Linked DNA regions of Homo sapiens. The protein of the gene in region 1 purifies or fractionates together with the protein of each later gene. This does not show direct contact. Each region holds a gene or a part of one and is shown on either strand. Other genes may lie near its edges. The genes, in order: MAGEA10, CCHCR1, FOXJ2 and QSER1.

What was found.
Region 2: the proteins of MAGEA10 (region 1) and CCHCR1 purify together in Homo sapiens (affinity purification with mass spectrometry; 4 studies listed by BioGRID and IntAct, with this or other methods). This does not show direct contact.
Region 3: the proteins of MAGEA10 (region 1) and FOXJ2 purify together in Homo sapiens (affinity purification with mass spectrometry; 5 studies listed by BioGRID and IntAct, with this or other methods). This does not show direct contact.
Region 4: the proteins of MAGEA10 (region 1) and QSER1 purify together in Homo sapiens (affinity purification with mass spectrometry; 5 studies listed by BioGRID and IntAct, with this or other methods). This does not show direct contact.

Annotation. Positions count from the first base shown.
Region 1 is NC_000023.11:152,132,777-152,135,585, reverse strand, and holds the end of MAGEA10 (melanoma-associated antigen 10), read left to right. Parts: coding exon 1-1,075; 3' UTR 1,076-2,276; downstream 2,277-2,809. UniProt on the Homo sapiens protein: Not known, though may play a role in embryonal development and tumor transformation or aspects of tumor progression.
Region 2 is NC_000006.12:31,141,932-31,147,836, reverse strand, and holds the end of CCHCR1 (coiled-coil alpha-helical rod protein 1), read left to right. Parts: intron 1-2,028; coding exon 2,029-2,141; intron 2,142-2,343; coding exon 2,344-2,389; intron 2,390-2,534; coding exon 2,535-2,671; intron 2,672-2,763; coding exon 2,764-2,952; intron 2,953-3,048; coding exon 3,049-3,150; intron 3,151-4,423; coding exon 4,424-4,575; intron 4,576-4,702; coding exon 4,703-4,874; intron 4,875-5,120; coding exon 5,121-5,245; 3' UTR 5,246-5,398; downstream 5,399-5,905. UniProt on the Homo sapiens protein: May be a regulator of keratinocyte proliferation or differentiation.
Region 3 is NC_000012.12:8,028,850-8,035,752, reverse strand, and holds the start of FOXJ2 (forkhead box protein J2), read right to left. Parts: upstream 3,038-6,903; 5' UTR 1,920-3,037; intron 1,687-1,919; exon of another isoform or gene 1,576-1,686; intron 1-1,575.
Region 4 is NC_000011.10:32,888,558-32,895,840, forward strand, and holds the start of QSER1 (glutamine and serine-rich protein 1), read left to right. Parts: upstream 1-4,253; 5' UTR 4,254-4,568; coding exon 4,569-4,777; intron 4,778-7,283. UniProt on the Homo sapiens protein: Plays an essential role in the protection and maintenance of transcriptional and developmental programs.

The DNA.
Region 1 (2,809 bases):
TGAAGAAGATCTTCAATCCCAAAGTGAGACACAGGGCCTCGAGGGTGCACAGGCTCCCCTGGCTGTGGAGGAGGATGCTTCATCATCCACTTCCACCAGCTCCTCTTTTCCATCCTCTTTTCCCTCCTCCTCCTCTTCCTCCTCCTCCTCCTGCTATCCTCTAATACCAAGCACCCCAGAGGAGGTTTCTGCTGATGATGAGACACCAAATCCTCCCCAGAGTGCTCAGATAGCCTGCTCCTCCCCCTCGGTCGTTGCTTCCCTTCCATTAGATCAATCTGATGAGGGCTCCAGCAGCCAAAAGGAGGAGAGTCCAAGCACCCTACAGGTCCTGCCAGACAGTGAGTCTTTACCCAGAAGTGAGATAGATGAAAAGGTGACTGATTTGGTGCAGTTTCTGCTCTTCAAGTATCAAATGAAGGAGCCGATCACAAAGGCAGAAATACTGGAGAGTGTCATAAGAAATTATGAAGACCACTTCCCTTTGTTGTTTAGTGAAGCCTCCGAGTGCATGCTGCTGGTCTTTGGCATTGATGTAAAGGAAGTGGATCCCACTGGCCACTCCTTTGTCCTTGTCACCTCCCTGGGCCTCACCTATGATGGGATGCTGAGTGATGTCCAGAGCATGCCCAAGACTGGCATTCTCATACTTATCCTAAGCATAGTCTTCATAGAGGGCTACTGCACCCCTGAGGAGGTCATCTGGGAAGCACTGAATATGATGGGGCTGTATGATGGGATGGAGCACCTCATTTATGGGGAGCCCAGGAAGCTGCTCACCCAAGATTGGGTGCAGGAAAACTACCTGGAGTACCGGCAGGTGCCTGGCAGTGATCCTGCACGGTATGAGTTTCTGTGGGGTCCAAGGGCTCATGCTGAAATTAGGAAGATGAGTCTCCTGAAATTTTTGGCCAAGGTAAATGGGAGTGATCCAAGATCCTTCCCACTGTGGTATGAGGAGGCTTTGAAAGATGAGGAAGAGAGAGCCCAGGACAGAATTGCCACCACAGATGATACTACTGCCATGGCCAGTGCAAGTTCTAGCGCTACAGGTAGCTTCTCCTACCCTGAATAAAGTAAGACAGATTCTTCACTGTGTTTTAAAAGGCAAGTCAAATACCACATGATTTTACTCATATGTGGAATCTAAAAAAAAAAAAAAAAAAAGTTGGTATCATGGAAGTAGAGAGTAGAGCAGTAGTTACATTACAATTAAATAGGAGGAATAAGTTCTAGTGTTCTATTGCACAGTAGGATGACTATAGTTAACATTAAGATATTGTATATTACAAAACAGCTAGAAGGAAGGCTTTTCAATATTGTCACCAAAAAGAAATGATAAATGCATGAGGTGATGGATACACTACCTGATTTGATCATTATACTACATATACATGAATCAGAACATCAAATTGTACCTCATAAATATCTACAATTACATGTCAGTTTTTGTTTATGTTTTTGTTTTTTTTTAATTTATGAAAACAAATGAGAATGGAAATCAATGATGTATGTGGTGGAGGGCCAGGCTGAGGCTGAGGAAAATACAGTGCATAACATCTTTGTCTTACTGTTTTCTTTGGATAACCTGGGGACTTCTTTTCTTTTCTTCTTGGTATTTTATTTTCTTTTTCTTCTTCTTCTTTTTTTTTTTTTAACAAAGTCTCACTCTATTGCTCTGGCAGGAGTGCAGTGGTGCAGTCTCGGCTCACTGCAACTTCCGCCTCCTGGGTTCAAGCGATTCTCCTGCCTCAGTCTCCTGAGTAGCTGGGATTACAAGTGTGCACCACCATACCCGGCTAATTTTGTATTTTTTAGTAGAGATGGGGTTTCACCATGTTGGCCAGGCTGGTCTCAAACTCCTGACCTCAGGTAATCTGCCCGCCTCAGCCTCCCAAAGTGCTGGGATAACAGGTGTGAGCCACTGCACCCAGCCTCTTCTTGGTATTTTAAAATGTTGTTACTTTTACTAGAATGTTTATGAGCTTCAGAATCTAAGGTCACACGTTCGTTTCTGTTTATCCAGTTTAAGAAACAGTTTTGCTATTTTGTAAAACAAATTGGGAACCCTTCCATCATATTTGTAATCTGTAATAAAATAACATGGAATTGGAATAGTAATTTTCTTGGAAATATGAAAAAAATAGTAAAATAGAGAAAATAATTTTAAGTGTTAGTATTTTTATTTCTTTATTATTTTTAGTTTATCATCCTGCAAAATTAAAAGTTATATCCCTGGATCTTGTTAAGTCGAAATTAAACTGTAATAAATGAAACCTTTGCTCACTAGTGCATTTTTTCCCCAAACATCCACTGAGCATCTGGTCTGTGGAAGGCCCTGGGTCTGTAGTGGAAATGTTAAGCCAGAACCACCTTTACCCATAGGGTGGTAGAGTCTAGGGGCTGCAGTCAAGTAACAAGGTGGCAAGATGTCCTCTAAGACCCAGAAGAAAAGTAAGACGGGGTGAGGGTATTGGGCTGTAGGTGAGAGTGGTCACGTACATCCTCTGAGCCAGGACTTTTGGGGCTTTGAGAAACTGCAGTTCCTTCTGGTGAAGATGAATCCAAAGAAGCTGGGTGGTGCCAGGGTCAGAGCCTCACATAGTTGACAGAGCAAATCCTGGGATGTAAAACTGCTCTGAGCAGTTCCTTTTGGGTGGTGGATGAACAGAGAGGAGTCCACCTGGGGCAGGAATGGAAGGTGTTCTGCACTCTTGTCTCAGTGCAGTTGAACTCCTAATTAAATTAAAAAAATAACTAGGTGATAGATACCCATCATATGCAAGGGTCTCCTGAGAGATAAGGATCT
Region 2 (5,905 bases), on another chromosome or scaffold:
CTCCACTACACCCGGCTAATTTTTGCATTTTTAGTAGGGACGGGGTTTCACCATGTTGGCCAGGCTGGTCTTGAACTCCTGACCTCAGGTGATCCACCCACCTCAGCCTCCCAAAGTGCTGGAATTATAGGTGTGAGCCACTGCACCTGGCCTAGTCTATTTATTTAAAGCTATATACTTACTTGCTTATTATATACTTAACTTGCTTACTATTCCATCTAAAATGTAAGCCAGTTAGTTTCCTTCTAAATCAATTGCCAGCCTTTGTCTCTCCTACCAACTTCCTAGTTGTTTCATTACCTACAATTGTTGTATGACCTTCAGAAAAACCTCTAAGAAAACAGCAAAGCTTCTTTGTGCTGGTGATGACTTCCCCTCAGCCTTAGACACTGAGGTACCCAAGGCAGGTAGTTCTTTTTTTTTTTTTTTTTTTTTTTGAGACAGAGTCTCGCACTGTCACCCAGGCTGGAGTGCAATGGCACGATCTCAGCTCACTGCAACCTCTGCCTCCCGGGTTCACACGATTTTCCTGCCTCAGCCTCCTGAGTAGCTGGGATTACAGGTGCACACCACCACACCCGGCTACTTTTTTGTATTTTTAGTAGAGACAGGGTTTCACTGTGTTGGCCAGGCTGGTCTCAAACTTCTGACCTCGTGATCCGCCCGCCTCGGCCTCCCAAAGTGCTGGGATTACAGGCTTGAGCCACCGTGCCTGGCCGGCAGGTAGTTCTTAGCACAGTCTCTGGCTTGTAAATGTTTATTGTTATCGTGAGGCTCTTCTTGATGGGTTAATTTAGATAAAGATAATTTTTGGTTTAGCGAAATTAAGATGCAGGATGAGTCCTTGCCCATCACTTCCTTCTCTTGGATTTGTACCTTAGGGACTAATTTAGCTTTAAAAATTATGAAAAATTTCAAACTTGCACGGAATTAAACTAGTTATAATGACCTACCACCCAGGTTCAATCCATCGCGGGTGCCCCCTACCTCCAGGAGAACAGAAAGATGCACTGTGGACAGGGTTTGACTTTGGTACCAGGCGATCACAGAAATGGTCTGTGTAATGATGCATTTGCCGAAAGTCCTCCAGGCTTAAAGCAGTCCAAACTCTGATTGTTGCTGGGTTTATTAGATTGTCTCTAGGTAATTGGAGACTTTAATAAGGGCTGTGGTAGGTGTTGGAAGCATCTACTGGAACAATTTCCAGATCAAAGTGAACTTTGCTGTGCTGCTGGGGATGCAGCTGCAAGCCTTCATCATCATGTGTTTTTCTGTGGGTGCAGACCTGGACTCTCCTGAGGAAACCCCAGCCCGGCCCCAGACACTCCTTGGCCTCCTCCTGGGGCCTGTTTAAGCTGCTCAGTTTTCATGAGCCAGGTTGGTCCTACTTCTGGCACAGCCAGCTGGTAAAGCATGTGGACCTGCCCGTCATTGGTGCTAGATCGACACTCCTGGGCTTGGAGAGGATAACTTTGTTTTCTTTTGTTTTTTTGAGATGGAGTCTCGCTCTGTCACCCAGTCTTGAGGGCAGGGGTGCGATCTTGGCTCACTGGAACCTCCACCTCCTAGGTTCAAGTGATTCTCGTGCCTCAGCTTCTGGAGTAGCTGGGATTACAGGCATGAGCCACCATGCCCGGCTAATTTTTGTGTTTTTAAGTAGAGAGAGTTTCACCATGTTGGCCAGGCTAGTCTCCAATTCCTGACTTCAGGTGATCCGCCCGCCTCGGCCTCCCAAAGTGCTGGGATTACAGGCAGGAGCCACTGCCCCTGATCAGAGAGGATAACTTTACTCTTTGATACACGATAGTGAGCAAAACACAGTTGTGAGAAATAAGCTTAACAGGTTGCTTAAAAAGATAGTCATTTAATGCATTCTTGGGGCAAGGGTCCTTTAGATAATTGACGGAAGCTGTGCGTTCTGTACTTGTATAATGGGACAGGATTAGAGGGAGTTGTCTATACAAGGCACAGCAAGTCCTTTGGGAATGAGGGGAGGCATGGAGGATCAGTGACTTGTGCCCTCTCCAGCTCTCAGATCTGGCTCGAGACCACCATGGCTAAGGTGGAAGGGGCTGCCGCCCAGCTTCCCAGCCTCAACAACCGACTCAGCTATGCTGTCCGCAAGGTCCACACCATTCGGGGTGCGTAGGACAACTGCGAGCCACGTCCTGCCCCCACCCCACCAGCTCGGACTTTCTTCTTCCTGACCCAGCTCTCTCTGATCCCACATCCATTCACCTTCCTCCTTTCACCAGTCCTTGCATCTCTTTTTCCCTTACTCCCTGTCCCCACTTTCTCCCATGCAAACTTCATCTCTTTTTCTCCCTGCTTTTTCCCCTCCAGGCCTGATTGCTCGAAAGCTTGCCCTTGCTCAGCTGCGCCAGGAGAGGTGAAGTTTGGGCACTTTGAGGTGGATGGGGCTTTAGGGCATTGGCTGCTGGGACCCCCAAAACCATGAGGACTGAGGTGGGATGGGGGCTTTGGGATCAGGCAGCTGGGTGATTTCTTCTGACTCTTTCTCTTCCCCGTCCCAGCTGTCCCCTACCACCACCGGTCACAGACGTGAGCCTTGAGTTGCAGCAGTTGCGGGAAGAACGGAACCGCCTGGATGCAGAACTGCAGCTGAGTGCCCGCCTCATCCAGCAGGAGGTGGGCCGGGCTCGGGAGCAAGGTACACCTGGTTGCCAGGGGGTGGAGAGGATGAGGAAAAACCCGGTGTCTAGGGTGCTGGGAGAGGCCTGACCCAGCACCCCCTCCTTTTAGGGGAGGCAGAGCGGCAGCAGCTGAGCAAGGTGGCCCAGCAGCTGGAGCAGGAGCTGCAGCAGACCCAGGAGTCCCTGGCTAGCTTGGGGCTGCAGCTGGAGGTAGCACGCCAGGGCCAGCAGGAGAGCACAGAGGAGGCTGCCAGTCTGCGGCAGGAGCTGACCCAGCAGCAGGAACTCTACGGGCAAGGTGTCGAGAGGGAAATGGGTGCTTCCCTTGGAGGGTGGGGTGGGAACTGCGAATCAAAGCTCCTGCTGATATGCCCCGTCTGCACTTTCACCCCAGCCCTGCAAGAAAAGGTGGCTGAAGTGGAAACTCGGCTGCGGGAGCAACTCTCAGACACAGAGAGGAGGCTGAACGAGGCTCGGAGGGAGCATGCCAAGGCCGGTGAGCCTTGCCAGGGTGGATAGGGCCTTCCAGGAAGAAGGAAGTGTTAAGACATAAGGTTATTATTTTCCCCTCAAAGTGTGTTCAAAGCTTCATTACAGGAAGTAATGAAGGTATCCAGGAGTAGCACAGATGAATTATCACATCGTGAACACACCCATGTAGCCAGCACCAGATTAAGAAACAGCATATGGCCGGTCGCGGTGGCTTATGCCTGTAATCCAAGCACTTTGGGAGGCCGAGGTGGGTGTATCACCTGAGGTCAGGAGTTTGAGGCCAGCCTGGACAACATGGCGAAACCCTGTCTCGACTAAAAATACAAAAATTAGCTAGGCCTGGTGGTGGGCACCTGTACCCCAAGCTTACTTGTGAGGCTGATGTGGGAAGACTACATGAACCCGGGAGGTCGAGGCTGCAGTGAGCCAAGATTGTGCCACTGCACTCAAGCCTGGGTGATAGAGAAAGACCATGTGTCAAAAAAAGAATTGTGTAATGAATGTATCTTCTCTAACTAAATATAGCAGTTAACATTTGCCACATTTGGTCTCTTATCTATATACACACATATTTGTACATCTTTTGAATCACTTTAAGTTGTAATCATTTAATGTTTTGTTGTTGTTGTTGTTTGAGACAGAGTCTTCCTCTGTCACCAGCTGGAGTGCAGTGGCATGATCTTGGCTCACTGTGACCTCTGCCTCCCGGGTTCAAGCCATTCTCCTGGCTCAGCCTCCCAAGTAGCTGGGATTACAGGCGCCCACCACCATGCCCAGCTAGTTTTTGTATTTGCAGTAGAGACGGGATTACACCATGTTGGCCAGGATGGTCTCGAGCTCCTAACCTCGTGATCCGCCCGCCTTGGCATCCCAAAGTGCTGGGATTATAGGCGTGAGCCACCACGCCTAAGTAAGTTGTAAACATAAGTTGTTCAGCCGCATCTCCCAAAGCCAGTAAATTCTCCTATATAGCTGCAATCATCACACTTTAAGACAGTGAACACTAATTGCACAAAATCTAACCCAGTTCATGTTCAGATTTCCCCTGAGGAACTCCAGGATGGTTCAGGGATGAGGAAGATACTTAGGTTCAGATTCCCAGGCTCCTAGAGCATCAGCCCACCCCTCCAACTGTACAGAAGAGACAGATCCACAGAGCAGAACAGCCTCCCCAAGCCACAGAGTTGGTGACCCAGCGTTTGTTCCTGTCTTCATGGTGCCTGGCTGCCTCTGGCCTGACTCACACCTGCCTCCTCTGTGCCTTGGCCTCTCTGTAGTGGTCTCCTTACGCCAGATTCAGCGCAGAGCCGCCCAGGAAAAGGAGCGGAGCCAGGAACTCAGGCGTCTGCAGGAGGAGGCCCGGAAGGAGGAGGGGCAGCGACTGGCCCGGCGCTTGCAGGAGCTAGAGAGGGATAAGAACCTCATGCTGGTAGGAGACAGGAGGGCAGACAGGCAGACACTAGGGCCCATCCTGGGCTGGTTCCTGGGCTAGAGGTGTGGAAAGAGGATGGTGAGGGAGGCTCTATCCGGGCTAGGTTTAACCCTCTCCTTCCCAGGCCACCTTGCAGCAGGAAGGTCTCCTCTCCCGTTACAAGCAGCAGCGACTGTTGACAGTTCTTCCTTCCCTACTGGATAAGAAGAAATCTGTGGTGTCCAGCCCCAGGCCTCCAGAGTGTTCAGCATCTGCACCTGTAGCAGCAGCAGTGCCCACCAGGGAGTCCATAAAAGGTCTTGGGCCAAGCACAAAGGGACAAGGGACAAATGCGCGCACTTCAGGAATCTCCTCTTCAGACTCTCGCATGATGAGTGTTGTTCTCTGCGGTCCTTCGAGGCCCTTAGCCTCTTTTAGCGATGCCCAGCTTGGACCAAAGAGCCTCCTCTCTCCCATTCCTCATTTCCTGTGCCAGCCCTGTTTCCTCTGTAACCACGAGCACCTTCCCTTGTCTGGTGCTCATCTGCTGTCTTCCTTCCCAGGGTCCCTCTCTGTCCTGCTCGATGACCTGCAGGACCTGAGTGAAGCCATTTCCAAAGAGGAAGCTGTTTGTCAAGGAGACAACCTTGACAGATGCTCCAGCTCCAATCCCCAGATGAGCAGCTAAGCAGCTGACAGTTGGAGGGAAAGCCAGCCTGGGGGCTGGGAGGATCCTGGAGAAGTGGGTGGGGACAGACCAGCCCTTCCCCATCCTGGGGTTGCCCTGGGGGATACCAGCTGAGTCTGAATTCTGCTCTAAATAAAGACGACTACAGAAGGAGCCATTGTTTGGAAATGTTATTTCTGGGAATCTGTGGGAATTCTCCCTGCAGCCATCTCTCTTGGAGATTGTGAGAAGTGGTCCCACCCATAGCTCTCTCTATGGGTGGCACCTTTTCAAATCCTTTTTCTAGGCAGCTTTGGAAATGTTTGGGAAGCTCCTGCTTTTCTTTATTCTCAACTTTTGTTTTAAAACTCTTTTCTTCTGGAAGATGATAAATGCTAGGAGTGGGGAAGATGAAACATTCACTCGTTCAACAGGAATGTCAGAGCTAGGCACTGTATTAGCCTGGGGGCCACTTGGACCCTGAGAGCCTACATCCTAGTGGGAGAGCGAGCGAGCAGATGGGACCTAAACAGATGAACGAGATCGTTTCAAATAAGTGCTTGAAGAGAAAGTACAGTACGATGATATGATAGAAACTGACTCTGGGGAGAGGCCTCTGAGCAGGGGACCTTGTGCAGAGGCCTGCCTGAAGTGGGCTCCTGTGGAGGCCAGGAGGTCTCT
Region 3 (6,903 bases), on another chromosome or scaffold:
CCACTCAGTAGCCACCTACTTCTAACTGATTCCAGAGAAGCAAGCAGGGTTAGGGAACTCAGTCCAAGCAGGGCCAGTTAAACTGCGTGGCGGTGGTGTACTTGGAGATGTTGTGATATAGTTCACCCTGAGCCATTCAGGCAGGTGCACGCCAGCATCTGGTGAAGTACTTTATAAGAAACAGGCTGCTGTTAACCAGCGAGGCCTCTTTTGTAAAAGGTAGGGGAAGGAGTTCTGGAGTTAGGAGTCAAGGATCCTCATCCTTCTGAGACCAGAGGTATCAGCAATGAAGCTCTCTTATTAGTCCTAGAAGAAATGATCCCAGCCTGAGACTGGGTTGCCCTGCTGCTTAAAGGACTGTCCTGTAGACCGTCACGAGGGCTCCCATTGACTGGGGGGAGGCCAAGCCTTTCCCCTCAGGTGGCCATCCTTACCACCACCTATCCATGTCCTTGTACAGAGGCACCTGCTTCTAGAGGCCCACCAGAAACATACAATTCTAGGTAACTGGAGTATAGTCTGAAAAGCACATAAGTACCTGTCTCCACACACATACCCACTTGAAACAGAGAGCCACATTCACATGAATTAAGAAGTATATGCATGTTGTCCTATAGCACAGCCACACAAACCTGTGCCCTATCTCATATACCACCAGTAGCTTCCAGGACAAATGACTGTACTCAGGAATTTAGGTAGACCTCACCCATGCCCCAGAGAGAGGAGGAAATATGAAAGGCCAAGTCAGATGAAGCCTCCTTCACAACTTGTCCTTGCTGTGAGACAGAAGATAAGGTATCTGCTAATGGTGAGGCAGGAAAGCAGACAACCAGCTAGTGACCTCTCCTAAAAACAGCCTAGGCTTCAGGGGAGGATTTCCTGGTACCCTTTTCCTGCCTTTTCTGAAGATTCTGGACTTTGATAATTCCCTAGCTTATGAAGGAAAACTTTAACACAAGGTTCGAGGGACTCAGAACTGAACAAGAAACAGGAAGGGAGAGGATGAGACTATTAGGTACTTTTCTGGAAGGAAACTTTATATACTCCTCAGAAGTGAAATCTCTCCAGTGGTCAACTTGTTTAACTGGAAGTCTGGACAGAAGCGGAGCAGCAGCCCTCCTCCCTTCGTATCCAGGATCTAATTTTTCCTGAAGAATTGTGAGCAAAAAACAGGAGTCGAGAAGGGGACTGGGGCAGTGGTTCAGGGCCAGCATCAAGGAAGCACTTTAACCCGGGAGTTGGCATTCCCCTGCACACTTTCTTCTCGCCTCAGAACATGTGGGATTCCCATTTTCCCTTTGGATTTTATGGGCAGAGGCATACATCCAGCTAGGAATGGAAATGTCAGGAGAGGAGGCCTCTTGGTATCTGAGATAGGATGAGCAGGAACAGATTGCTTTTCTTGTCAAGGGAGCTATAATTGCAGTAAGCTGGAGGGAACACCTCTGGTGAACACTAAGCTGACCTCGGCATGCCCTGGGCAAGGCCAGGACCCCAGATGCCACCGTGATTTTCATGACAGCCCACTCTCCAGGGGAAAAGGCCCAAGGGTGAAGGGTGGTATGGGAATCTTACCACTGGTTGGGTTGTGTAAATCACTGCTACACAGTATGCATGTTCTCAAAATGCAGCTGTTTTCCGATAACCCTTTTCCTCAGCATGAAAACATCCACTTCCCTAAGGGACCTAAAATGAATCCCATCCCTTTAGTCCCCAAACACTAAGAAACCCATTTCTCAGAGCTTCTGCAGCAAGATGTGGGTTCAAATCCAGGAGCTCCCTTGGATCACATTTCCCATTGGATTTTCTGAGTCATCACTCTGTCTTCCCCGGCAGTGAAACCCACGATCCACCAGCTCAACCCCCTACACCCACTAGTGCCAGACAATGACAGAGAGAAGATGAAAGAAAGCACTAACCTGTCTCCAAGGTTCCTCCGGCAAAGGGAGGGAACCACCTGGTACTGGAGTTTGGGGTTGGAGGGATTCCCCTCTTCAGAGGCAGGTGACGGCTCTCATCCTCAGTGGCTCTTCCTGGACGAGGCTGAGCCTCCCAAGTTGGTGAGGGGAACTGGGTCCCCTGAGGATGAGGAGTCAAGGTTGGAGGAGGGGGAGGGGGAGGAGAAGGAGGTCCTACTTGGGGAAGGTGGCACACCCCCCACACCCTGCTTGTTACCCGGGGGAGGAGGGGAGGAGCCTCTCCCAACCAGGAGTTGTCTCCTCCCCCTTGGGGGAGTTCCCCTCCCCCCCAAACTGGATCTTTCTGAGGTGGAGGGCTCTTTCTGTCTGCTGGAGATAGGAGCGGAGGGGCTCCACCCCGTTCCACTGTCTAGGCACGAGGAAGTTGAGGGGGAGGTCTTCCCCTCTCCAGAAGGCTGAAAGCCGATTCCTCTTCTTTCCCTGGAGTGGCTTCTGAACGTAAGGACTCCTGTCTCCTGTGAATAGTGGTGGGCCGAGGGTGCCTACTCCACAGGCACAGCCCCGTCTCTCTTTGCCTCCAAAGTCCTGAACTGTTGAGAGTGTGTGTTTGGAGGGGCGGGGGCGCGCTAGGGTGGTCTCACTCTGCTTCCCTACGGAAAGCTCCCTTCTTTCCACTTCTGGGGGTCTCCTCCCCGGCCAGTACAGGGGTCTTCCTCGCCTCTAGGCAGGAGAGAGGCGTCCCCTCCAGGGGTCTCTTCTTTCCCTCACCCGAGTGGTAAGGGTCTTTTCTCTCCAACAGGGGGAGAGGTTGCTCGCGTCCCCGCTCCCGCCTCCGCTCCCGGGGTGCCCCAGAGGGTGGGGCTTTCGTACTCCCGGCTGTCCCTGAGCTGGCCTGGGCAGCACGGTCCGGGAGGCCGCGGCTCGAGACTCCGGTCCCTGCTACTGTGGCGGCAGCACCTCCTCTAGGGCCGTCCTGTCGGGTCCGCTCCCTTCGGCGCGTGGGGCTCCCCGCGCTGCCACCGCTCGGGCTCCGACCAGTCTGGGCTCCCGGGGAGCCAGAAGGCGGGCAGACAGTGTCAGGGCTCGGCGCGGGCTCGGGCTCGGCTCGGCTCCGCTGCAGGCCCCGGCTCCTCCCCGGCCTCCGCGCCGCGCTCCGCGCCCCTCCCCCTCCCCCGCCCGCCGGCCGCTGCCGCCACCGCCTCCCGGCGCGGGTTAAGGAGGAGCCGGGAGACGCCGAGCCGCGGGCAGCGCCGAGCCGCGAGCCTCGCTACCCGGTGTGCGCTCCGCCTGGAGAGCCACGGCCGCTCTCACGCCGGCGAGGGATCTCGCCGCCCTCGCCCACCTGCGGCCGCGTGGCTCCGGGAGTTCGCCGTCTACCCGGGATGACAACTCACTGCTCCCCGTCGGGAGAGTCCCTAGTGCGCACCGTATACCGTCAATTCCAGCTGACACCCCAACTCCGGCGTTTCATTCTGTTAAACTCCGTATACAGATGAACAGCCCCAGCTTTCTCAGGACTGTCTTTGATGGGCTTCTCTTTCCCTCGAGATAATTTATAAAGGATCATGAGCATTGAGGTGAAGATTGGGGTGAAGTTTATATGTTACCCTTATATCATCCTGGAATTCAGTAAATGCTCCTTGAATGAGTGGATACATGATAAATGAGCGTGTAACGGTGAAATAAACATCAGAAGATCTGGGTCCTGTTCCTTGTTTCAGCTTCCTAAACTTGTGCATGGCCCTTGTTCTCCGCAATCTTGCTCAGCGAAGAAGGGACCTTGATACTTGGCCTGCTTACCCTTTACAGCTGTCACATCCTGAAGTCATATTATTCTGCTGCAAATTCTCATATATTTCATACTCTGGCTTTTTTTTTTTTTTTTTTTTTTTTTTTGAGGTGTTGTTTCACTTATTGCCCAGGCTGGAGTGCAATGGCACGATCTGGGCCCACTGCAACCTACGCCTCCCGGGTTCAAGCGATTCTTCTGTCTCAGCCTCCCCAGCAGCTGGGATGCCTCAGCCTCCGGAGCAGCTGGGATTACAGGCGCGCGCCACCACGCCCGGCTAATTTTTGTATTTTTAGTAGAGATGGGGTTTCACCAAGTTGGCCAGGCTGGTCTCGAACTCCTGACCTCGTGATCCACCTTCCTCGGCCTCCCAAAGTGCTGGGATTACAGGTGTGAGCCACCGCGCCCGGCCCATACTCAGGCTTTTTAAACTTTTATCAAACTACCCTACTTTCTTTCCTTTCTTTCTTTATCTTTTTCTTCTTTTTAAATAGAGGCAGGGTCTCAGTATGCTGCCGAGGCTGGTCTTTAATTCCTGGGTTTAAACTATTCTCCCTTTTTATGCCTCCAAAGTGCTGGGATTACAGGCAGGAAACACGGCCCGGCCTACTCTCTACTTTATAGCACATAAGATAATAGGAGGCCAGGCGCAGTGGCTCACGCCCGTAATCCCAAAGCTTTGGGAGGCCGAGGCGGGGGGATCACTTGAAGTCAGGAATTGGAGACCAGCCTGGCCAACGTGGTGAAACCCCTGTCTCTACTAAAAATACAAAAATTAGCCCGGCGCGGTGGCGGACGCCTGTAGTGCCGGCTAAGGCAGGAGAATCGCTTGAACCCGGAAAGCGGTGGTTGCAGTGAGCCGAGACCGCGCCACTCCACTCCAGCCTGGGCGACAGAGCCAGGTTCCGTCTAAAAAAAAAAAAAAAAAAAAAGAATTAGCCAGGCGTGGTAGTGCGTGCCTGTAATCCCAGCTACCTGGGAGGCTGAGGCAGGAGAATCACTTGAAACTGGGAGACGGAGGTTGCAGTAAGCCCAGATCGTGCCGCTGCACTCCAGCCTGGGAGACAGTGAGACACCGTCTCAAAAAAAAAAAAAAAAAAAGATAATACGAATACAAAAATATTGCTTGCAAAATATTTGAATTGCCCCCAAAAGACTGCATACTTAAGTTGTATGTATATATTATATGAATAATTATATTTACAATATGCCAGGCATTGCACTGAGCATTCTGCATGTGTTGTCACATTGATGATTCTAGCGATTCCCTAAGACACTATTATTATACTTCTTTTACAGATGAGAAAATTGTGACTTACAGATACTATGTGTGAGTTCGCTTAATTAGTAAGTAGCAGAGTCAGGACTTAAATCCAAATGACTCCGATGCCCAGCTCTTGACTTCTATACCATTGTCCGGAGCGATCAGAATTTAAAGTCATCCTCAAAATTAAAGGCAGTAAACCAAAACAAGCCTGTTCTTCCTGCTCACACTTCCTATATTCAGGTTTAAAGATGTATTTTTCCTCTCTTTGAGGCATTAAATAATTCTCCCACACGCAGATAATTTGGCGGCAAATCTTTCTTGCTATGTATTAGATGTTTTGTTATGTTTCAACCGTTTTTGACATTTCCTGTGTATGGAAATTGGAGGGCTTGAGTGACAGGCAGTTGTACTAAAAATGGAAACATGAGGGAAGGATTAGAATCTTCCTGGCAATTTGGAAAAATAAAAAGCTCAAGAAATTATTTGGTTTTTACAAGACATTTGCTGCAGTATTTTTTGTAACTGGAAAATTAGAAAAGACCTAAATATCCAAAATAGGGTAATTTTAAATATATTATGGCACATCTGTACAACAGAGTACTATTTAGCATTTGCAAGAATAATTGTATTTATCTCTGAAAGGTAGAGTGAGTGGAGTTGTTTTATTTTTATAATGTTCTTTATCATTTAGATATTTTGCAGTAGGCATACATTATTTTAAAGAACCATTGTTTTATATATCTGACTTATTTGAGTGAGAAAATAATATTTTAAAATTTGTATAATGCAATCATATAGTTGCTTTTTAAAATATATATATGTTCATGCATATATTTGTGTGCATACCAATAGACACATAGAAGATGGATACACACCAAAGATGTGAGTTTATGGATTATTTTAATTTACTTCATTTTTTAATGTATCTATAATTAGTGTTTGTGTAGATTTGCTTATGTAATTTTTAAAATTAAAAGAAACTGACAAGGCTGGTTTGGTATGGTTTTGCCCTAAGATTGGGGGGAAGCACTTACATTCATTCTCACTTTACTTTCTATTAAGGCGGGTAATACGGAGAAGGATTTTTTAAGTCACTGAAACATACAGAAATTAAAATGTAAGGATCCACTCTTCTTTGTAATAAAACATGTTATATAATTATTCATGAGTGTTAATTTACCTTGAGCAAAACTATTCTTTATAAAATTGGAGACTAATATGCTACAACGCACGTTTTGGAAGCACTTATTAGAGACTGTGTATTACGTGAAACAAAAATAGTGGTTCTCAACTGTGAGTCCTAATAATTGTGAGAATTTAGGTAAGTCATTTAACTGCTTTGTGACTCAGTTTCCTCATCAGTAAAATGGGGATAATAATAGTACCTATTTCATAATGTTGTGAAGGGATTATGTGCCTTTATACATGTAATATATTTAGTTAAATGCCTGAAGGAGGAAGGACCTAGAGACTGAGAGGCTTATCAACCAAATGCAATATATGTGGACCAAGAGACATGTCCATCAAATACAATATGTAGACCTTTTGAGGGATCCTGATTAAAACAAAGCAACTGGAAAAAATATTATGAGACAACTGGTAAAATTCCAATACTGAGGGCGATATCAAACAATTATTGTATACTTTAGGTGCTAATGGAATTACCATTTTATGAATATTTATGAATACTAAAGTATTTAGACATGAAATGCCTGAAATTTGCTTCAAAATAATCAAGTAATGGGGGAGAGGAGTACAGATGATAGATGAAAGATTGAACGAATGTTGCTTTTTACAACAGTTTTTTTAAAATGCTATTCTCTGGGCCAGACGTGGTGGCTCATGCCTGTAATCCCAGCACTTTGGGAGGCCAAGGCAGGTGGATCACCTGAGGTCAGGAGTTCAAGACCACCCTGACCAACATGGAG
Region 4 (7,283 bases), on another chromosome or scaffold:
ACCTCCCCTCAAGCTGAGGGAGCCGGCTCTGGCCTTGGCCAGCCCGGAAAGGGGCTCCCACAGTGCAGCAGTGGGCTGAAGGGCTCCTCAAGTGTGGCCAGAGTGGGCGCCAAGGCCTAGGAGGCGCCGAGAGCAAGCGAGGGCTGCCAGCACGCTGTCACCTCTCAGGACTACAGGTGCACCACCATGCCTGGCTAATTTTTATTTCCTTTCTGATGTTTTAATTTAATTTATGATGTTGACCTAAGAGATGGAAACCAGGGCTGCTCTGGCAAAGACAGGGCTTATAGTTTCCCTCAATGCCAGAAGAGAAGGGAAAAATTTAAAACCATATCTTCTTTCCCTGTTCAAATCACTTCTCACACACATATTCCTTGTATTCTCAGTGAAACCACAAACTTGACCTTCTTGGATCTTTCTTCTTGATGGTTGGTCTATTTATAACATAGGAATGTGTGGACTTACTGACTACATTTCTAGTTAGGCAACCCCAAATTCTGCATTTCCCAACAAGCTAATGAACAAGGCCACCTCAGTGAAGATGGGGTTTCCTGGGTCTCACCCCAACTGATTCCCTCCATCATCTTAAAGCAAGTCACTCAATACCAGGCCTCAGCTTCCTCAACTACAAAAGGAAGGCAATGAACTATGTACTCAATAGAACTACAATCTTTCTACCAGTTGAAATACTTATTTTCTTTTTTTTTTTTTTTTGAGAGGCAAAATCAATTACTTCCTTTTCAATTGTCCTCTGGTGCTTTATTCCAATTTCTATTATATTTAACACTATCCTATTGCATTACAATTAGTTGTGTGTCTGCCTCTTTTCCTCATAAATTACAGGTTCCATAAAGACAGGCGTTGTATTAAATTTACCCTCGTATTCACAGCATTTAGTATTATGCTTGGCACTGTATTAGGCTCTAAATACATATCTATTGAATGAATAAATATGTAAGCTACTTTAAAAATGCCCATTCAGGCTGGATGCGGTGGCTCATGCCTGTAATCCCAGCACTTTGGGAGGCTGAGGTGGGCATATCACGAGGTCAGGAGATCGAGACCATCCTGGCTAACACGACGAAACCTCGTCTCTACTAAAAATACAAAAAATTAGCTGGGCGTGGTGGCGGGCACCTGTAGTCCCAGCTACTCGGGAGGCTTAGGCAGGAGAATGGCGTAAAACCCAGGAGGCAGAGCTTGCAGTGAGCCGAAATCGCGCCACTGCACTCCAGCCTGGGCGACAGAGCAAGACGCTATCTAAGAAAAAAAAATGCCCATTCAGAAGTTCCAATTAGTCATTTACATATTCCTTTCCTTTCCCCCCCAAAAAAGAAAAACCAAAACACTCTATCTCAATTCTAAAATCGGGGCAAGATTTGAAAATTGATTAAATCAAAGGCAGTTTGGTTTTAAGATGAATTGGAGTAAATCCTACACTTAAGAAGGAATCTTCCAGCACTTTGGAAGGCTGAGGTGGGAGGATTGCTTGAGGCCAGGAGCTCAAGACCAGCCTTGGACACCATAGCGAGACCCTGTCTGAAAAAAAACAAAAAAAACTCTTTCCTTCTTCCTCACCTCCATCTCCCACTTCCTTCTGAGTTTATTGTCTAGAGTTAGTCATGCCTTAGAACATGCCCATGAACAATCTCCCCACATTTTCCACCCTAACTCCCATCCCATTAGAAAATCAATACGTATTTCACAGGTCGCGGTGGCTCACGCCTGTAATCCCAGAACTTTGGGAGGCTGAGGCAGGCGGATCATCTGAGGTCAAGAGTTCGAGACTAGCCTGGCCAAAATGGTGAAACCCGTCTCTACTAAAAATACAAAAAAATTAGCTGGGCGTGGTGGCATGCGCCTGTATTCCCAGCTACTCAGGAGGCTGAGGCAGGAGAATCGCTTGAATCCGGGAGGCGGAGGTTGCAGTGAGACGAGATCACCCCACTGCACTCAAGCCTGGGCGACAGAGCGAGACTGTCTGAAAAAACGAACAAACAAAAACACGGGACCAACAATGCTCATTCTAGAGTTTGACATTACCTAGATCAGACTTGAAGCAGCTTGGTTACGAATCATTTGAGAGATCCCGAAACGTTCACAGAGCTGGAAGTATATTTTCAGTAGGGAAGAAGACATTCTTCAGATAGTATCATCAAGTGTACAAAATTTTTAAAAGATTTATTTACATATATCAAAGCATCACATTGTACCCCATAAATGTATGCAATTATGATTTGTCAATTAAAAATAGTATTGATAAAAAATGTAATGATGTTATTTGTAGACATGTAACATTTGAAAATAAATATAATTGTACTGATTTAGAGTGAACTAAGGAAATTTCATTTAAATGGCAAAGGAACATATGGTGACAGAGTAATATTACTAAAAATACTCACTAGAATTTTCCCTTAATATCTTTCCCTGATTTATGTGACATAAACAAACTACATAATGGTGTGAGGGACTATAAAGGTTTTATTGCCACTTGTTTGGTATTGCCTGCGTAACTCACTCTGAGTGCCAGTTGTGGGTATCTCAAACTAAGTGTCATAAAACATTTATAGCATGCCACTCCATTTCCTATACTTTTCATAGAGACAAAACTTTAGCGCTCACAAAAGTACTTATAAATATAATAGCTAGTTGTGAAAACTTTTTAATTTAGATCCCACATTTCCAGTTTGCAGGAAGAAAAATAAATGTAATGAAGATTTACGTTACTTCTCTGCATGAACTCAGATTAGTTCGCAAATTCCTTTTCAAAGAAAAACCACTTTTCAAAGATATCCTCAGTAAATGCATTTTGTAATTAACATAAAATTGGCAAAGTCGCTGTGCCTACACGTTTGAATTCATGTGTAAATAACGACTACTCACTTCCTTGCTTCCCCACCCGGGGACCAGGCTCCAAGCATCACAGGTGCAGAAAGACTTGCAAAAAGGAATGAATAGGAACAAAAGGATGTAGGCGCCAGGAGGAAAACAGGATCTTCCAGAACAAAATTAATCTCGCAAGGCATAGCAGATCCAACACCAGATTATTACCAAAGTTTAAACTTTTTCAATGGTCATCAGAGATAGCGTATCAAGTTTATTAGGTCTTTCACTACGGCTGATTTGCTTAAACCTTTATGTTATGCTTATCTTGAGGGATAGATTTCTGTGCTAAGCACATAATAGGTGTTAAACCAATATTGATTTTTAAAAGGAGGTGGTCATTAAATAGAAATTTTACTGTTATTTTAACCTTTAAATTTATGGCCCAAGGGCCAAACGATGATTTGTACGATTCCCTAGTTTCAATACTTGTGAGTTATTACAAGAAATACAACTCTGCTATGCAACAGAAGAACCGCAAATAGTCATTAAATTACCGCACACCAAGCAGCTTGGAGATCAGATAGGAAATGTTTGGGGAGAGAGTCCTGCTGAAGTTCCAAGTCTCAAACAAAACCCCTCAACATCAGAGTGCATGGTGAGTTTAAATTTATTGTAATTAAAGTCATCCAGATGGTAGTTGGATTAATCAATGAAGAGGTGGTTATCTATCTTGGGATAGAAGATTCTGAAACCCAGAGCGAGAAAAATCCCCAAGGTGGGGGTGGGGACAGTTAATAAGAGCCCTTGGGAAAGGCCCTTTCAGCGAGGATTGGAAAATAATACGTTTGAATTTGAATCTCTTTGAATATAAATCTCCCCTAACAGCAGGAAAAGGGTCCTCTAGCCCAGCAAGCTTTGGGGAGGGAGTAAGCGGAACTGCAAAAGAGCTCGCTCAGCTGTTTCTGGATTGGGGCGCAGAGAAAGAAATCGCGATCAGGGAACTGAGTACTGGAGTCCCTCAAAATAACCCGAAGGGTCAAATAGTGAGCTCCAAGCAAAGCGTTGACCCGGCTACCCCTGAGCAGCGCCCTACGCTGGGTTCCACTCCACTTCCCCTCCCCCGCGCGGGGCGATAGCCAGGCGCGGTCCCTTCCCACGCGGGCCGCGGCGAGTGCGGACAGCTCCCTTCCGGGCTGCGGAAGGCGGGAAGTCTGCGGTTCGCGGGCTCCGGCTGGCGGGCGCCCCTCGGAGTCCCTGAAGTCGGCCGGGCCCCGCAGGACCCGCGCCTTCTCGGCCCCAACTGTCCCTCGCGAAGCGTCCTGCGGTGGCGGAGGCCTCGCGGCCGCCCGCCAGCCCCGCGAGCGGCAAGCGCGGGGCTCAGAGGGGAGGCGGGGCAAGGCCGCGGGGCGGAGGGGGGCGGGAGGTGCATCCTGGGAAATCCACCAACATGGGGCGCAGCGGCCGCCGCCGCCGCCGCCGTCGCCGCGAGTCCCGGCCGCGGGTGCCTCCGCTTCCCTGACGCCCAGCTGGGGCCTCGCCGCCCGCCGCGGCCCGGGTCTTTGCGGCCCAGACTCGCCAGCGCGCCCTTCTCCCGCCTGCTCGCCGGGGCCATGTGAGGGGGCAGCTCCCTCCACCGCCGCCGCCCCCTCTTCCTCCCCCGCCCCCTCTCCCTGCCCGCCCCCGTCACACGGAGCCCTGGAGGATCCCCCGCTGCTGCCCGCCCTCCCTACGCCACCCCCACGATGGACAGGAACTACGCGACCTCGGGCTTCACCGAGCCGCCGCCGCCGCCGCCGCCCGCGCCCCCCGCCGCCCCCGTCCCCGCCAGCGCCGCTGCGCAGCCCCCCGCCCCAGCCTGGGCGTACGAACCCCGAGCCGCCGCCGCCGCCGCCAGCAGCAGCTGCAGCAGTGGCAGCTGCAGTAGCGGCAGCAGCCCCAGCCTCAAGGCCAGGTAGGGAGGGTGGGCGGCGGGGTCGCGGTGGACCAGGAAAGGCCGGGGATGCGTTTGGGGCCTTCGCTCGGTTGCAGCGCCGCCCAGAGGTCTGGGCCGGGCGGGGAGCCCTCCGCTCGCCCTCGGCCAGCTCGGGGGAGGCGGCTGATGACTCCTACGGGGTGGTCGCGGGTAGGTGGGGGCGCCCGGTGCAGGATTCGCGCCTGGGGACGGCGGGTGAAGGAATAGCTGGGCGGGAGTCGTGGGGCTCCGTCACCTCTTGGGTCCTGGGCTCTCACATGGTGAAGTTTGGGCTCGTGGCTGAACTCGGGATCTGTGAGACCCAGGATTGGCGCCGGGGGTCCGAAGGGGGCGCCGGAGAGTTTGGGGCAGTGGCGATCCATTGTATTGGAACCTGGGTGGCCGACAATGCGGTCTTGGGGACTCCGGCGTGTGAGGGTTGCGGAGGCGGGAGAGGAAGAGTCGCGGAACCGCGTCCCGGAGACACTGGGGGGCCCGGGAGGGCTGGGCTACGGGAGAATCCCCGGGGCGCAGGGCAGAAGAGGGGGCCCGGCAGGGCGCGAACGCGGCTCCAGGGCCGGGTGACATATGTTTGCGCTGGTGGCCAAGATTTAGGCGATTTTTCTTCCACGCGTTCAAAGTTGCTCTTAGGTTTCCTCCCCTTTTAACAACAGCAGGAAGTAAGGAATCTTTCTTTGCCTTCTATGCCTCGGGGTGACTGAGAGTTGGGAAGAAATGGGGCGGGGGTTGGGGTGGGGGTAGTGAAGGCCGTAAAGGTTGAAGAACCAAAGCATGCTTCTCCATCTCGGCCTTTAAGGTCCGGGTGCATTATGTAGCGTGGGGTTCAAGAGTTCATCTTGCATGACCAAGGGAATCTAAAATTTTGACTCCTACTTGATATTTAAGCTCGCGGGAAATGTGTAGTAGTGCCACACTGTGAAACGGTCCCATTTGAATGATAACTGGAAGGCGTGGTCTGGTTTGGAGAATTGGTGAGCGGGGTGTTTTAAAGCCACCTCTCCCGAACAATACAGAATCTGGTAGGTGCAGCTTCTGATTACATGGACCAGGGAATCCTGGGTTGCTAATGACTTCATCCTCAGCTACCAACAGGAAGCTTCGTGGCTTTATGATCTCATCAGATTTCTTCATTATTTTTCACGACAGAAGTGAACTTTTGTTTTAAGTTTATACATTACCGTGTTCCAGGTTATCTTCTTTGTTTTTACGAAAGTTCTACGTTCATGATTGAGCAAATAAGTGTGAAGGGTAGCTGGTCTTTGTCTTAGATTGTCCATTGGGACGATTGTGAAAGAATGAGAAAAATTTGCTTCAAGAATAGGAATATAAGCTTTCTCAGAAAATTTTAGGCCCTTTGTTTTCAAGACTTGGGAGTTAACAAAAATAATGTGATGTGCCAATTTGGAGCTAAGTAATTAAATGCTGAAACCTTTCAGAAATAGCCATAATTTTGTATTACATACAAGTAAGCCATTTTAAGGAGTTTCATGAAAGACGTTTGGCACTTCACCCATTATTTCTTGCTGATGGTAATTTGACTATCTTTTTCAAGTAGCTTTTTGCATTGACTAGGATAATTTACAAATGAAAATTACTTTCTCATCATTGAACAGCATGATAGGTATTTGTGCCGCATTTTTTATCTTTTAAATGAAAAATATTTATTAGGTAAATGGAACTGAAATACTACCTAGTTACTTCTTTTAGTAGAATACTTCTGAGGCAAGAAACTAAAATCTACTTGTCATATTTTCCAAATGTTATTTATCAGAGTAACACGAAATGACTTCCCAAACACACTTGAAAACAGTAAGTAGATTCACTTGGCACACATAATCTAAAGGAGATTTATTTTCTGTTTACTAGAAGTTATTGAATCTTAAATATTACCCCTCATGCCCTCTCCCCCTGCTTTTTTAAAAAATAAGCGGTGGGGGGAATCAGCTAAAATACAGCATAGAAAATGCAGGTTTACCCCCCTCCCCCGCCAGCCTGCTTTGTTAACATCTTGTATTGGGATCAGGCCATCTGTACAGAGTTACACTTCTGAATTATACCTCATTTTATTCCTCAAACTGTGCAAATATTCCCTTTGATTTCAGTTATATCAAAAATGGCAAATCTGAAATATGCCTTGTAAGTCTAAATATTCTACACTTCAGAAGCTTATTTATATTTTTATACCATTTTAAAAAGCTTTTTCATAATGCACATATCAGTTGAATGTTTTTGTTCCCCTTTGTGGCAGTTTCTTGTGAAGGTGCAAATGAGTACTAGTTGTGATGATGTAATATGGATACTTATCCATAAAGAATTAGCCTGTCTGTCACCTTGTTTCCTGTAACCTATTCAGAAGCTGACAGATGGTAATGACATTCAGTTGTTGCCGACAGGGATCTAACATCCTACTTTATGCCTTCTTGGTCTTGAAATACATCATTTTCATCAGTTGATGGGAAGGTACATGATAAACAGCTTTTCATGA